Linked DNA regions of Homo sapiens. The protein of the gene in region 2 purifies or fractionates together with the protein of the main gene of each other region. This does not show direct contact. Each region holds a gene or a part of one and is shown on either strand. Other genes may lie near its edges.

Region 1 (3,500 bases), on a different chromosome or scaffold from region 2:
GCTCACTGCAGCCTCCGCCTCCCAGGTTCAAGCGATTCTTCTGCCTCAGCCTCCCAAGTAGCTGGGACTACATGTGCATGCCACAATGCCCAGCTAATTTTTTTTTTTGTATTTTTTGTGGAGATGAGTTTTCACCATGTTGGCCAGGCTGGTCTCAAGATTCTGACCTCGGGTGATCTACCTGCCTCGGCCTCCCAAAGTGCTGGGATTATAGGTGTGAGCCACCATGCTTGGCCAACTCCATGGTTAAATGGAAAGAAAAGAAAAGAAAAAAGAAAAGAAAAGAAGAAAAGGAGGGAGGGAGGGAAGGAAACTACAGATAATATTTAATTATTTATTTATTTTATTCTTATTTTTTTGAGACAGAGTCTCGCTCTGTTGCCCAAGCTGGAGGTACAGTGGTGCACTCTCTGCTCACTGCAACCTCCGCCTCCAGGGTTCAAGTGATTCTACTGCCTCAGCCTCCTAAGTAGCTGGGATTACAGGTGGTGCCGCCACACCCAGCTAATTTTTTGTATTTTTAGTAGAGACGGGGTTTCACCATGTTAGCCAGGTGCCTTGGCCTCCCCAAGTGCTGGGATTACAGGTGTGTGCAACCGCACCCAGCCTACAGATGATATTTATATAATAATGAAATAGGGAAAGCTTTTCTAAGCCTACTTTCCAAATCGGAAACCAAAAAACAAAAAGCCACACAGGCTTAGGCCAGATGTGGTGGCTCATGCCTGTAATCCCAGCACTTTGGGAGGCTAAGGCAGGTGGATCACCTGAGATCAGGAGTTGAGGACCAGCCTGGCCAACATGGTGAGACCCCATCTCTACTAAAACTACAAAAATTAGGTAGGAGTGGTGTCGGGTGCCTGTAATCCCAGCTACTTGGGAGGTTGGGGCAGGAGAATTGCTTGAAGCCAGGAGTCAGAGGTTGCAATGAACCGAGGTCGCGCCATTGCACTCCACCCTGGGTGACAGAGTGAGACTCTGTCTCTAAATAAATAAACGCTTCAAATCATAGATAAAATTAAAAGAAAAATTAAAATCTGGAAAGGGATATGTATTACAGATAGGACTGAGGATTTTCTTACTTATAAAAAAGGCTATTTATATACCAATAATAAGGAAGATGTGAACACAGCAAAAATATCAAAGGACATAAATAGAAAATTCATGAGAGTGGTAAAAAAAATTCAAACTCACTAATAATCAAAGGAGTACAAATTGAAATGAGACCCTTTTCTGTCTAGAAATTTAATAATGGAATAATCCAGAATTGGGGATATAAGGAAGTAAACACTCATATACTGATCATGGGAATATAAAGTGGCAGAAATCTGCAAAGACACTTGAAATATCTATCAAAAGTCTTAAAGAGAAGCATTTCTAAAGAAAAACCTAGGCTGGGTGCGATGGCTCACACCTGTAATCCCAGCACTTTGGGAGGCCAAGGCAAGTGGATCTCTTGAGCCCAGGAGTTTGAGACCAGGCTGGCTAACATGGCAAAACCGTGTCTCTACTAAAAATACAAAAATTAGCTGGGCCTGGTGGCACACACCTGTAGTTCCAGCTACTTGGGAGGCTGAGCCAGGAGAATTGCTAGAACCCAGGAGTTGGAGGTTGCAATGAGCTGAGATCACACCACTGCACTCCAGCTTAGGTGACAGGGAGTCTCAGTCTCGATAAAAAGAAAAAAAAAAGAAAAATCTAAACTATATGCCAAAATATTAAAAAGTTTAACTGTTTAGACTTTTTGCCACTGTGTCTATATTACTTTGAGAATTAGAAGAAAAAAGCATTTTTTTCAATTTGGAAAATTGTATAAGCCCTTTTAACAGAGTAATTACACTTGTAGACATTTTTCCTAAAGAAATAATCAGAGATTGCATAAAGATACATTATATAAGAATCGTAATACCAAAAAAATTGAAATCACAAAAATCTAATACTGGGAATTGGTTACATAAATATGCCACATTCATATGATGGAAAAGTATGCAGCTACTAAAATTATGACATGCAAGAATATTGACATGGAAAAGTGTCACACTATTCTGTCACATACAGGGTACAGAACAATATATAGTATGATACCTTTTTGAATAGAATATTCAGATGACCGTGTATATGTGTGTGCATATGTGTGCAAGACATATACCAGTTATCTTTACATAGTGGGGTTATGGGTAATATAAATGTTTATTCTTTGGGCTCTTCTATCTTTTCCAAGTTTTCTTAAAAAGCCTGTATTCTTTTTACATTTGGGGGTCAAGGCTTGTTTTTATTTTTTATTTTTATTTTTTTACAGCATGGCCACTATAATAATGTATTATATGCCTGAAATTTGCTAAGAGAGTAAACCTGTTTTTTTCTTTTGCATCTTCTTTTTGTATTTTTAATTTTTGTGGGTATATAATAGGTTGCTTGTTTTATTTTATTATTTTTATTTATTTATTTATTTATTTATTTATTTATTTATTTTGAGATCGGAGTCTCGCTCTGTTTGCCAGGTTTGAGTGCAGTGGCGCAATCTCAGCTCACTGCAACCTCCACCTCCCTGGTTCAAGCAATTCTCCTGCCTCAGCCTCCCTGGTAGCTGGGACTACAGGCACGCACCACCACACCCAGCTAACATTTGTATTTTTAGTAGAGATGGGGTTTCACCATGTTGGCCAGGCTGGTCTGGAACTCCTGACCTCAAGTGATCCACCCACCTCGGCCTCCCAAAGTGCTGGGATTACAGGCATGAGCCACTGCGCCCAGCCTTGTTTTGTTTTAAATAAGATGGTATAGTCAATGATGCCACAGGCTATCTTGTCAAGTAGGACAGGGACTGAACCCAAGTCACTTAGATTTGCAATTAGAGGGCAGTGGAGACACCATATGGAACAATTACCGAGTTGATTACTGCACTAGCACAGTGGATGCCAGGATCCTATGTGGTGAGCTGAGGAACAGAGACAACAGAGTCCAATCTTTTAAGCATTTGGGCTACAAAACTATTACTTACTCCAGCCAAAATCCCAGGAGTCATCCTCTCTCATTCACCCCCTCCTCCAACATTCACTCCATCAGCCAATCCTGCTGCTTGATCCCAAAAATACCCCCTTCCCTTTCCACTATCTCCCCTGCTACCACCCTCTACAAGCCACCACCATTTCCAATTTGGATCTGGCAATACCTACCAATTGGCCTCTTCCCGCCTGTCCCTCACTCATGTCAGTCACTGTGCTGGGTGCTGGCAATATGTTTACCTCCTAGACAAGGACCTGTGGCTATATAGGTCAAGGCTCCTTGGTCATAGGACAAGGTTTCCTTAACCAGGAACAGATGGTCCTGCCAAACTGGGCCATCGCATCCCATGGAGCAACTGACTTAGGACGGTATTACAAAGGGAGAGGATAGAACAGGGCTTTAAGACAGTGGCTTTTCTGGTTGGGTTTTTGTTATGAGAATGTTTACATATCGGCTATTTTGTAATAGCTCTAGTAGAGAGTAGAAAAGCCCAC
Region 2 (3,500 bases):
CCATTCTGTATCTAACCAACTAAGTCATCTTGAGCTAATAACTTAAACTCTCTGAGCTGTGGCATCCTCTTCTATAAAATAACTACCTCAAGCCGGGTGCCATGGCTCAGGCCTGTAGTCCTGAGCTACTCAGGAGACTGAGGTAGGAGGATGGCTTGAGCTCAGGAGTTTAAAGCTGTAGTGAGCTATGACTGTGCCACTACACTCCAGCCTGGGCAACAAGGTGAGACCCTGTTCCTAAAAATAAAAAACACCTTTAAAGTCCCTTCTAGTCCTAACAACCAAGGAGAGCAATTTAACATTTTTTAAAGATGATAAAAATTCTTTTTTTTTGAGATGAAGTCTCGCTCTGTCCTCCTGGCTGGAGTGCAGTGGTGGGATCTCGGCTCACTGCAAGCTCCGCCTCCCGGGTTCACGCCATCACGCCATTCTCCTCAGCCTCCTGAGTAGCTGGGACTACGGGCGCCACCACACCCAGCTAATTTTTTTTTTTTTTTGTAGTAGAGAAGGGGTTTTGCCGTCTTAGCCAGGATGGTCTCAATGTCCTGACCTCGTGATCCGCCCGCCTCAGCCTCCCAAAGTGCTGGGATTACAGGCGTGAGCCACCGCGCCCGGCCGATAAAAATTCTTCTAATGAAATACCATGTTAACCTGGGCAAACACAAAACATTTTTTAAAAATAGATTTTGGAAAAACTAATTTTAAATAGTCAAAAATCATGCAGTAATTGAGTTTTTAAAATAAAATCATACTGTTTGAGCAACAAAAATAAGAAACATAAAATAATTGGTTATATGAGAAAATAATCTTTCACCTCCTCTCCCTGTTAAGCCTGGGAATCATAGTTAAGGTTTACTGATTTTTTTAATTCCTAAATTATTTCTCAACATAAAAAAATTTTCTTGAAAAAAATTAAGCATTTCTCTTATACCTGAAGTAGTTATAGTTCTTTAATATTTTATTTGAGTAGTTCAATCTCAAAGTCTATTGAAAACCATTTTTAATTATAAAAGAAGGTAATTGCATACAACAGTGTTCAGTGGTCCTTCTACAGTTAAAGCCTGTGATTCGGAGTACTGAAAAATTCCACAAGAAAATAAACCAAAAAGAGGCCGGGCGCGGTGGCTCACGCCTGTAATCCCAGCACTTCAGGAGGCCAAGGCGGGTGGATCACCTGAGGTCAGGAGTTTGAGACCAGCCTGACCAACATGGTGAAACTTTGTCTCTACTAAAAATAAAAATATTAGTTGGGCGTGGAGGTATGTGACTGTAATCTCAGCTACTCGGGAGGCTGAGATGGGAGAATCACTTGAACCCAGGAGGCAGAGGCTGCAGTGAGCCAAGAACACATCAATGCACTCTAGCCTGGGTGGCACAGCGAGACTCCATCTCAAAAAAAAAAAAATTAAAATTGAAAATAAACCGAAGATAGGTCATAGAAGGCTAAGTCCTTTCTATAAAACTTTCCTTAAAAGGTAATGAATATGAATAGGTTCTACAAATATATATAACTTGAAGATTTAATCACCTTTCAAGTGTGTAAGATGAATATTAAAGTTTTTTCTATAAAAATCTATTTTAATCAGTAGCAACATAGCTAACATATTATGTGACAAGCTCTGCTGTCAGCCCATACATACGTTTAATCCACATGAATATCCTGTAAAGCACATACAATTTTATGACCCCCATTTTAATGATGGACAAACTGAGGCTGCCACAACTTCCATGATCTACTCAAAGTTACACAGCCTTTATGTGGCGGAGCCCAGGCTCAAGGTAGATGTAACTGACCCAAGCCCCTGCTCTTACACGCTATCTTCAGTTAAGATTTAAACTCCCCTTTCTAAATGATGTCACTATTTCCTCTCCATATGGGTTTCATCTATCTAGAAAGGAAGCCTTGAAATAAGTAAAGCTCTAATTTAAATAGCACTTCAGCAATTAAGTAAAGCAGAAAACCCCAGAACCTATACGCTAACTTCCGAAACAAAATCTCCTGAAATGCCAACTCAATCATAAATTTTAAGATGCCAATCTTTCAGACCATATCTCATCCTTTGCTTTCCTAAGCTCCATCAGAAAAATATGGTTGGGTAGGAAGAGGATCATTCCCAAAGCCTAAACTCCAAGTTTCTTAGTTTGGCAACTATACTGTGCTTTGGGACTTTAAAATTATAAGCACAGTTCCCAGAGGAGAACATTTCCTTTATTAGCAATTGGCTTTGAAAATTCCATTCTCAGATGCTAAATATAACAAAATACCTTCTGACTTTTATAAATAAACATGCTCCAGATTATTTTGATACTAATGATTTTCTATTTACAAGACAGTTTTGCCACAGCAGTTAAGCAACTGTAACATTTTGAGGAATCTTTCAAGTTTACTCCAGAGCTTTTTTTTTTTTTTTTTTTAAGACAGAGTCTTGCTCTGTCGCCCAGGCTGGCGTGCAGTGGCGCCATCTCGGCTCACTGCAAGCTCCGCCTCCCAGGTTCACGCCATTCTCCTGCCTCTCAGCCTTCCGAGTAGCTGGGACTACAGGCGCCCACCACCACGCCCGGCTAATTTTTTGTATTTTTAGTAGAGATGGGGTTTCACCATGTTAGCCAGGATGGTCTCGATCTCCTAACCTCGTGATCCACCCGCCTCGTCCTCCCAAAGTGCTGGGATTACAGGCGTGAGCTACCACGCCCAGCCTCCAGAGCTTTTCTTTTCTTTTAAGACGTTGTTTGGCTCTTGTTGCCCAGGCTGGATGGAGTGCAACGGCGCAATCTCGGCTCACCGGAACCTCTGCCTCCCAAGTTCAAGCGATTCTCCTGCCTCAGCCTCCTGAGTAGCTGGGATTACAGGCATGCACCACCACGCCCGGCTAATTTTGTATTTTTAGTAGAGACGGGGTTTCTACTAAAACCCCGTTGGTCAGGCTGGTCTCGAACTCCTGACCTCAGGTGATCTGCCCACCTCAGCCTCCCAAAGTGCTGGGATTACAGGCGTGAGCCACCGCGCCCAGCCTATTCCAGAGCTTTTAAAGCACTGACTTGAAAATTGTTCACTGGATTCTTCTACTATGAAATTAAAAAGTTCTTGTTTCATAATGCATTTCCTTAAAATTTATTATTTCTAATTTCCTTGGGTTCTAACACAAGAATATTGGCAAAGCCAAAGTCATGGAAGTAGGTGTTTCCCAAACTATGAAACAGAATAAATCAGGATTTTTTAAAAGTTTACTATGGGCCGGGCACGGTGGCTCACACCTGTAATCCCAGCACTTTGGGAGGCCAAAGTGGGTAGATCACCTGAGGTCAGGAGTTCGAGACCAACCTGGCCAACATGGTGAAACCTCGTCTCTACTAAAAACACAAAAAAATTAGCCAGTCGTGATGGCAGGCACCTGTAATCCCAGGTACTGGGGAAGCTAAGGCAGGAGAATTGCTTGAACACGGGAGGTGGAGGTTGCAGTGAGCCGAGATTGTGCCATTGCACTCCAGCCTGGGCAACA
Region 3 (3,500 bases), on a different chromosome or scaffold from region 2:
TAATAACAACTGTAAATAATGGAAATAATTCTTAGTAGCAGCAATCCCCAAAAAACTCAATTATTATTGCAAGAAAACATGATGGCACCTTGCTTATTGCAGGCTATTAAGAATGATGGTGTATTCTTCAGACCCATACTGTCAATGAGGACTTGATACAGAAACTCAGCCACATCTTTCACCTCTCGCTGGAATGCTGCACTATCCACAACAAACACAATAGCCCTGGAGGGAGAAAACAAGAAAAACTGGCATGTGAACGTGTAACAGGACATCATTATCTTGAAAAACTATCCTGAACTTCTTCAAAGTCAATCTTGGTGATTAACACTCAGCAGACACACATGCAGGTCTGTGCATATGTTATCATATAACATAAATCCTCATTTAACAAGGAACTATTGAGTGCTACTGTGTATCAATGACTGAAGCTGAAAAAAGACAGTAAGAAATGATGCCTGTCCTCCAAGACAAATCATCATATAGAGAACCATATGATAAATGCCAAGACAAAACTATGCACATGTGTAACAGGAATAAAGAGAAAGATCATTTAAATGAGACCAGGTCAAAGGCAACTTTAAGGAGAATGTAACAGTTGAGTTGAATCTTAGCTAGACCAAAAATTGGGGCACAGGCTGTCTGGAAAGTACAGGTTGAGTATCCCCAATCCAAAAATCCAAAGTCTAAAATCCAAAACACTTCTGGTTCCAAGCATTTTGGATAAGGGATACTCAGCCTACAGTATGTTCAAGCCACAAATACGTGAAACACATTCCCTGGGGAAGTCAAGGTAAGCTGGTACACAGGGAGATGGGGAAATGAAGGAGAACCAAGTCAGACAGTGAGGCGTGACACAATGACCTGTGGAGTTCATGCTTTTCTGTCTTATGAAGAATATTGGTGCCTAAATGGAAGACAAAGCAATCTTAGAGGGCGCTTGAACTAGAAGCACAGTGACCAGGTAGGGCCTGAACTAAGGCAGCCATAGTGGGACTCCTCATGTGACAGAAACAAAGAGATATCAAAGCTAAAGTGCAGCAGCCCAGGGAAACTGCAGACAACAGGTCTTAGGGGGCCGGGTGCGGTGGCTCACGCCTGTAATCCCAGCACTTTGGGGGGCCGAGACAGGCAGATCACTTGAGGTCAGGAGTTCGAGACAAGTCTGGGCAACATGATGAAACCCAATCTCTACTAAAAATATAACAATTAGCCAGATATGGTGGCGGGAGCCTGTAATCCCAGCTACTTGAGAGTCTGAGGCAGAAGAGTTACTTGAACCCAGAAGGCGAAGGTTGCAGTGAACTGAGATCATGCCACTGCACTCCAGCCTGGGTGACAAAGCGAAACTCCATCTCAAAGAAAACAAAAAAACAAAAAAACCGGCCAGGCGCGGTGGCTCACGCCTGTAATCCCAGCACTTTGGGAAGCCGAGGCGGGCGGATCACGAGGTCAGGAGATCGAGACCATCCTGGCTAACACGGCGAAACCCTGTCTCTCCTAAAAATACAAAAAATTAGCTTGGTGTGATGGCGGGTGCCTGTTGTCCCAGCTACTCAGGGGACTGAGGCAGGAGAATGGCGTAAACCTGGGAGGCAGAGCTTGCAGCGAGCCAAGATCGCGCCACTGCACTCCAGCCTGGGCAACAGAGCGAGACTCCGTCTCAAAAAAAAAAAAAAAAATACAAGCCTTATGGACAAGGGTTTGAATGCCCAGGTGGAGATAAGAGACATGCAATGGCCAACATGCAGCTGGGGAGCTAGAACTGAATGCCCTGCACAAAGCCTACAACTTAAAATAGTCTCAGGGAGGTCGGGGCTTGCAAAAAAAGTTCCCTTAGAAACAGCGGGCCTCCACTGCCTCACACAGATATAGGGTATGAATTTATACTCTCTCCAGGTGTAAGACCCCCAAGGGGAAAGGCTTACATAAAAATTGGGCCAGACTTATTGAAGCCCTATGGCCCCAACAGAAGGAACTATGAACCGCTTATGGAGCAAGGCTTTCATATCCTACGGGATTAAAGAACCACCACAATATCAATGATGTGTCACTCTTGAAGAAAGGTTCTGGAGCAAAAATTACAAGGCACAGAATAAAATAATTATGAGGGAGAATAACTGGTACCCCAAAGAGAATAATCAGCACCCCAAAACTAAGATAATAAAGCTATCTATAAAGTAAATGTTTAAAATTATTTAAGAAAATACTACAAACTACAATAAAAAATAGAATAGTATAAAAAGAAACAGGCTGGTTTGAAAAGGTAAGTATTTTAGACAAATATAGTAAATGATATTAATAAATCAATGGAAAAGTTAAGCAGAGATCATGCTCAGCTGAAAATAATGTAATAAACTAGAAAACAAATCTGAGGGAATCTTACAATATGCGAAGTAGAAAGATCTGGAAGATACGATAGAGAGGAAACAAGAAAGGCAAAAATAATAAGGTTCAATAACATTCATAAGAATTCCAGAGTGTGAGAAATGATCATGGGGAAACAGCACTACCTGGAGAAACGATGGTGAGAATTTTCCAAAACTGAGGAGAATCTTTGGTTTGGAATAGCACAACTGAATTCCAAGAATGATAAAGCTAAATCCATCCTTGAACAGAAGAAAATCTATCCCTGGATAGAAGGTCAAATCAGGCAGACTTACTACAGTGAAATGACAATTAGACTGACTGGCAAAAACATTCTCATCTGCAACAGATGGATGAGGTCAGGAGTGATGCGGCTGCCACCCAGGACTCTGCACTCAGCTAAAAGAGACATTCCAAAATGCTGGCCAAATAGAGTTACAAATGAACAAAGACTGAAAACATTTGACTACTCATCACCCTCTCTGGAAACACTTCTAAAAGATATACTCAGTGAGGGAAAACTGAATCTAAAGGGAAGAAGTAAAATTCAAGAAGCAATGGGGAGCAAAAGACCATAAGCATCCTGGTAATTCTCATCACTGAATGTAAGAGGAAAAAAAAGTATGGATGGGGGTTAAAAAGGAGCATAAATAAAAGGAAGATGTGAGGAAGATGAAAGTTAAAGTGTTTAAGGTTCAGGAAAAGGAAACTGATATTATTGGATTCAGACAATCAAATAGGCAATGTTTAAAAGATGGGGGAGGGGAACCATGATAAGAACAGCAACAGCATATGTTCAAATCAGGAGAGGGAAAATAGCCACTAGGGAAACTTGGCGAAGCCAGAAAGTAGGATTAAAAAAAAGTCACATACCAATATAGTAAATGTCTTTTCAACTTGCATGTTATCATGATTATAATTTATTTGAACTAAGTTTTATCTTCATATTTTGCATGTTTTATTTACCCAAAATACATGAATCACAGAGTAGTTATACTGCAAATCATAAAATATTTAGAACTGGCAATAGAAAAAGAAAAAACATTTAATTGGAAATAAAAACCCAATTATGGCAAAATTTACCAGCTCTAGATTTGTCTCAATTGTCCAAGGAATTTTCTTATCTGTGACAA
Region 4 (3,500 bases), on a different chromosome or scaffold from region 2:
CAGCCTCCCAAGTAGCTGGGATTACAGGCATGCGCCACCATACCCAGCTAATTTTGTATTTTTAGAAGAGACGGGGTTTCTCCATGTTGGTCAGGCTGGTCTCGAACGCCTGACCTCAGATGATCAGCCCACCTTGGCCTCCCAAAGTGCTGGGATTACAGGCATGAGCCACTGCGCCCGGCTAACCTGACATTTCTAAACCAGTAAAGATGATAAAGACAAAGGCTTGATGTCAAAAATTATCTGCATTGGGTTATTCCTCCATAACACCCAGGAGAGAGAAACTTGGAGGAAGCAAGTAGGCTCAGTACACACAGAGGTAAAGGGTCAATGTGGAAAAAAAAATCGTATTTTTAAAGAGGGAAGTAAGATTTTTCCCTAAAATTACTATCATTTCAATTTTGAAGTTCTATCATGTTAACATTCTGAAATTTTAAACAAAATTATTTAGTAACGAGATGACAGTACAATCACTATTCAAAAAGACCTCTCTGCCTATAGTTTGGATGTTCGTCCCCCAAGCCTCAATGTTGAAATTTGATCCTCAGTGTTGGAGATGGGGTCTAATGAGAGGTGTTTGGGTTATGGGAGCAGATCCCTCATGAATGGCTTGGTGCTGTCCTCATGGTAATGAGTGAATTCTCACTCTATTAGTCCTATGAAAGCTGGTTTTTAAAAAGAGCCTGGCACCTCTCCCAGACCCTCTCTCACCATGGAACACGTACCAGCTCCACTTTGCTTTCTGCCATCAGTGGAAGCAGCCTGAAGCTTCAGCCTGCAGAACTGTGAGCCAAATAAACCTCTTATCTTTATAAATTACCCAGGCTCAGCTATTCCTTTATAGCAACAAAAATGGACAATGACAATCTCCTTTTAACAAGACCAACTTTGAAAACTATCATAGGTTAACCAACGGAGGTATGCTCTGGTCTTCTCTAACAAACACATATCTTCTAGGCACTCAATCCATAGTTTGAATTAAACCAAGATGGACCTTCACAAACAGTTATAAGATTTTTTTTTTCCTCAGTTATAAGATTCTAAAGGACCAACTAGACATTACCCTATCATTACCCTATGATCTGATCTGTCCTTATCCTAGATGTCTCATAGATAGAGGGAATGGCAGCTAAAGCAGAGTTAACAGCATCCCTGAAAGCTAAAAGGGAGATCATTCCCAGATTCTCTCTGGGCTTGTTCCAGCACAGCACTAAATAGCTGGGCCCTGCCTTTTAGATGGCCTAATGATAAGCAGTTTTAGGTTTTAAAACATCTGAATATCATGGGTTTTGCTGATTCTCATCTACTTCCTGTTATATATTTTAGAAATGTCTATTGTGAAGCACTGACTACATATTCATCCAGAGGAACTATGTCAGCATTTACAGGCTTTCAATTATCTATAGTAATGGAGGTTGGGCTAAATGGAATACAGACACCTTATTTTCACTATAAATTTCAACTGTTACCAAATTTTTACATCAATAACTATTCAGCAATACCTAAAATCTTTTTTTATAGAAATCTTATTTAATATGTAGTACCACCTACATCCTGCTTTCATACTTTCAGCATAATTTAACACATTCAAGGAGACTATGCAAATCAATTCAAAATATCTATCTATACCAGTGGTTTTCAAACTGAATTTTTTTTTTTTTTTTTTTTTTGTGAGACGAAGTCTTGCTCTGTCGCCAGGCTGGAGTGCAGTGGTGCAATCTTGGCTCACTGCAACCTCTGCCTCCTGGGTTCAAGTGATTCTTCTGCCTTAGACTCCCAAGGAGCTGGGACTACAGGCATGTGTCACCACGCCCAGCTAATTTTTGTATTTTTAGTAGAGACGGGGTTTCACCATGTTGGCCAGGATGGTCTCAATCTCTTGACCTCATGATCTGCCCGCCTCGGCCTCCCAAAGTGCTGGGATTACAGGCGTGAGCCACTGCGCCTGGCCCAAACTGTTTTTTGTTTGTTTGTTTGTTTGTTTTTCCTTTGAGATGGAGTATCGCTCTGTCGCCCAGGCTGGAGTGCAGTGACGTGATCTCAGCTCGCTGCAACCTCCGTCTCCTGGGTTCAAGCAATTCTCCTACCTCAGCCTCCTGAGAAGCTGGGATTACAGGCGCCCGCCACCCCACGCCCAGCTAAAGCAATACCTAAAATCTTAAGCTATCTAGTGTGTTAGGGATTATTAGCTTAACATACTTTCAGGCAGAGTAAATACATACCTTTAATTTATCAGATAAATCTTTAATCTCATTAACTGCTCCATTATATTTGTTGGCTAATTCTCTTAATTCTTCCTGAGTCCTTTCATTCATTTCTTTCAGATGGGTACATTCATCTTCAGTATTACTCAGACTTCGCTGCGATTCAAGTTTACAGGCAATTTAATTAGAATAAGTGTATATTTGTTATTTAGAATTCCTTCTAAATGAAATTTATAAAAAGTATAATTCTATGGACTATTCTAAATCAACATCTGCCCTGGACTTTAAATAAAGCTGAGTCAAATAACATAAGAATTTCAATTCACACTAAAACAGAAAACATAACTAAGAATTAACAAAAACAACAAAAAAATAAAAGTGGAGGGAGAGCAGGGGCAGGAAAAGGATGCTGCCTTTATATAATTACATTTTTGAAAGGCCAATGGGTATGACTTTTAGCTGTGAAAATATTTTAAGCCTATCAATCCTTGAAAGCAAGTTTAATAATATCCAGCAATCAATTTAATAAAAAATTAAAAGACACTTAGTAACTTTCTTTATATATCAAATTAATCACACAACAGTGAATCAGGCACTATGGGATGAGGTAGCAATACAAACTATACCTGTAGTAAGGAAAGGTATGTTTACCATTTAGTTTCTGATGAGCATTTTAACTAATTCTAGTAATACATTATTTATGTGGTAATTTTGCAGTGGTTCAAAGAAAAGATCTATATTATGAATTAGAATTTTTTTCCCCAAAGCAATAAAAATTGCATTTTGATTGCTCCTCCAAGACCTAGAAAGGACCTTGGAGATGATTTCACCTTTGAACTTCCTAAATATATGACACAGCTAGTTTTCCTCTCTGCAGAGTGAATTAAAAAAGAACAAGTAGTGTAGACTCTTGGCCTTACACTGACCCCCCTCAAATAGAAGCAAAGCAAAACCAAGTGACAGGAAATCAATTCCCCAGCACATATCATGGTCTGCTGTATGGAGGGTGAATCCTAAGCAGAATGCAAACAATAAGATTCCCTGGTTACGCTTTTATTTCCTCAGCCATTGACTAGGGAGTAAGTACCAAAACTCACATGGAGAATTGCTGTCAATGAAAGCAGCGTAACTGTTCCTTCCCACCTGACAGACAGAAAGTATTTCCTAACTATATAATAATACCCAAGTTTAAAGTATCCTGGAATGCTTGAGATTTTTTTGAACACTCATAATACTATTTAGTATTTTTTTTTTGATTGAAATACCTCAACTTCTGAAAGTTTTCTAACCACTTCA

The links.
Region 1: the proteins of CDS2 (region 2) and ALDH3A2 purify together in Homo sapiens (affinity purification with mass spectrometry; one large-scale study listed by BioGRID and IntAct). This does not show direct contact.
Region 3: the proteins of CDS2 (region 2) and SRPRB purify together in Homo sapiens (affinity purification with mass spectrometry; one large-scale study listed by BioGRID and IntAct). This does not show direct contact.
Region 4: the proteins of CDS2 (region 2) and SLMAP purify together in Homo sapiens (affinity purification with mass spectrometry; one large-scale study listed by BioGRID and IntAct). This does not show direct contact.

What each region holds. Positions count from the first base shown.
Region 1 is NC_000017.11:19,665,751-19,669,250, reverse strand, and holds part of ALDH3A2 (aldehyde dehydrogenase family 3 member A2), read right to left. Parts: intron 1-3,500.
Region 2 is NC_000020.11:5,130,008-5,133,507, reverse strand, and holds part of CDS2 (phosphatidate cytidylyltransferase 2), read right to left. Parts: intron 1-3,500. UniProt on the Homo sapiens protein: Catalyzes the conversion of phosphatidic acid (PA) to CDP-diacylglycerol (CDP-DAG), an essential intermediate in the synthesis of phosphatidylglycerol, cardiolipin and phosphatidylinositol.
Region 3 is NC_000003.12:133,812,315-133,815,814, reverse strand, and holds part of SRPRB (signal recognition particle receptor subunit beta), read right to left. Parts: intron 226-3,500; coding exon 89-225; intron 1-88. UniProt on the Homo sapiens protein: Component of the signal recognition particle (SRP) complex receptor (SR). Ensures, in conjunction with the SRP complex, the correct targeting of the nascent secretory proteins to the endoplasmic reticulum membrane system.
Region 4 is NC_000003.12:57,860,809-57,864,308, reverse strand, and holds part of SLMAP (sarcolemmal membrane-associated protein), read right to left. Parts: coding exon 3,470-3,500; intron 2,361-3,469; coding exon 2,223-2,360; intron 1-2,222. UniProt on the Homo sapiens protein: Associates with the striatin-interacting phosphatase and kinase (STRIPAK) core complex, forming the extended (SIKE1:SLMAP)STRIPAK complex.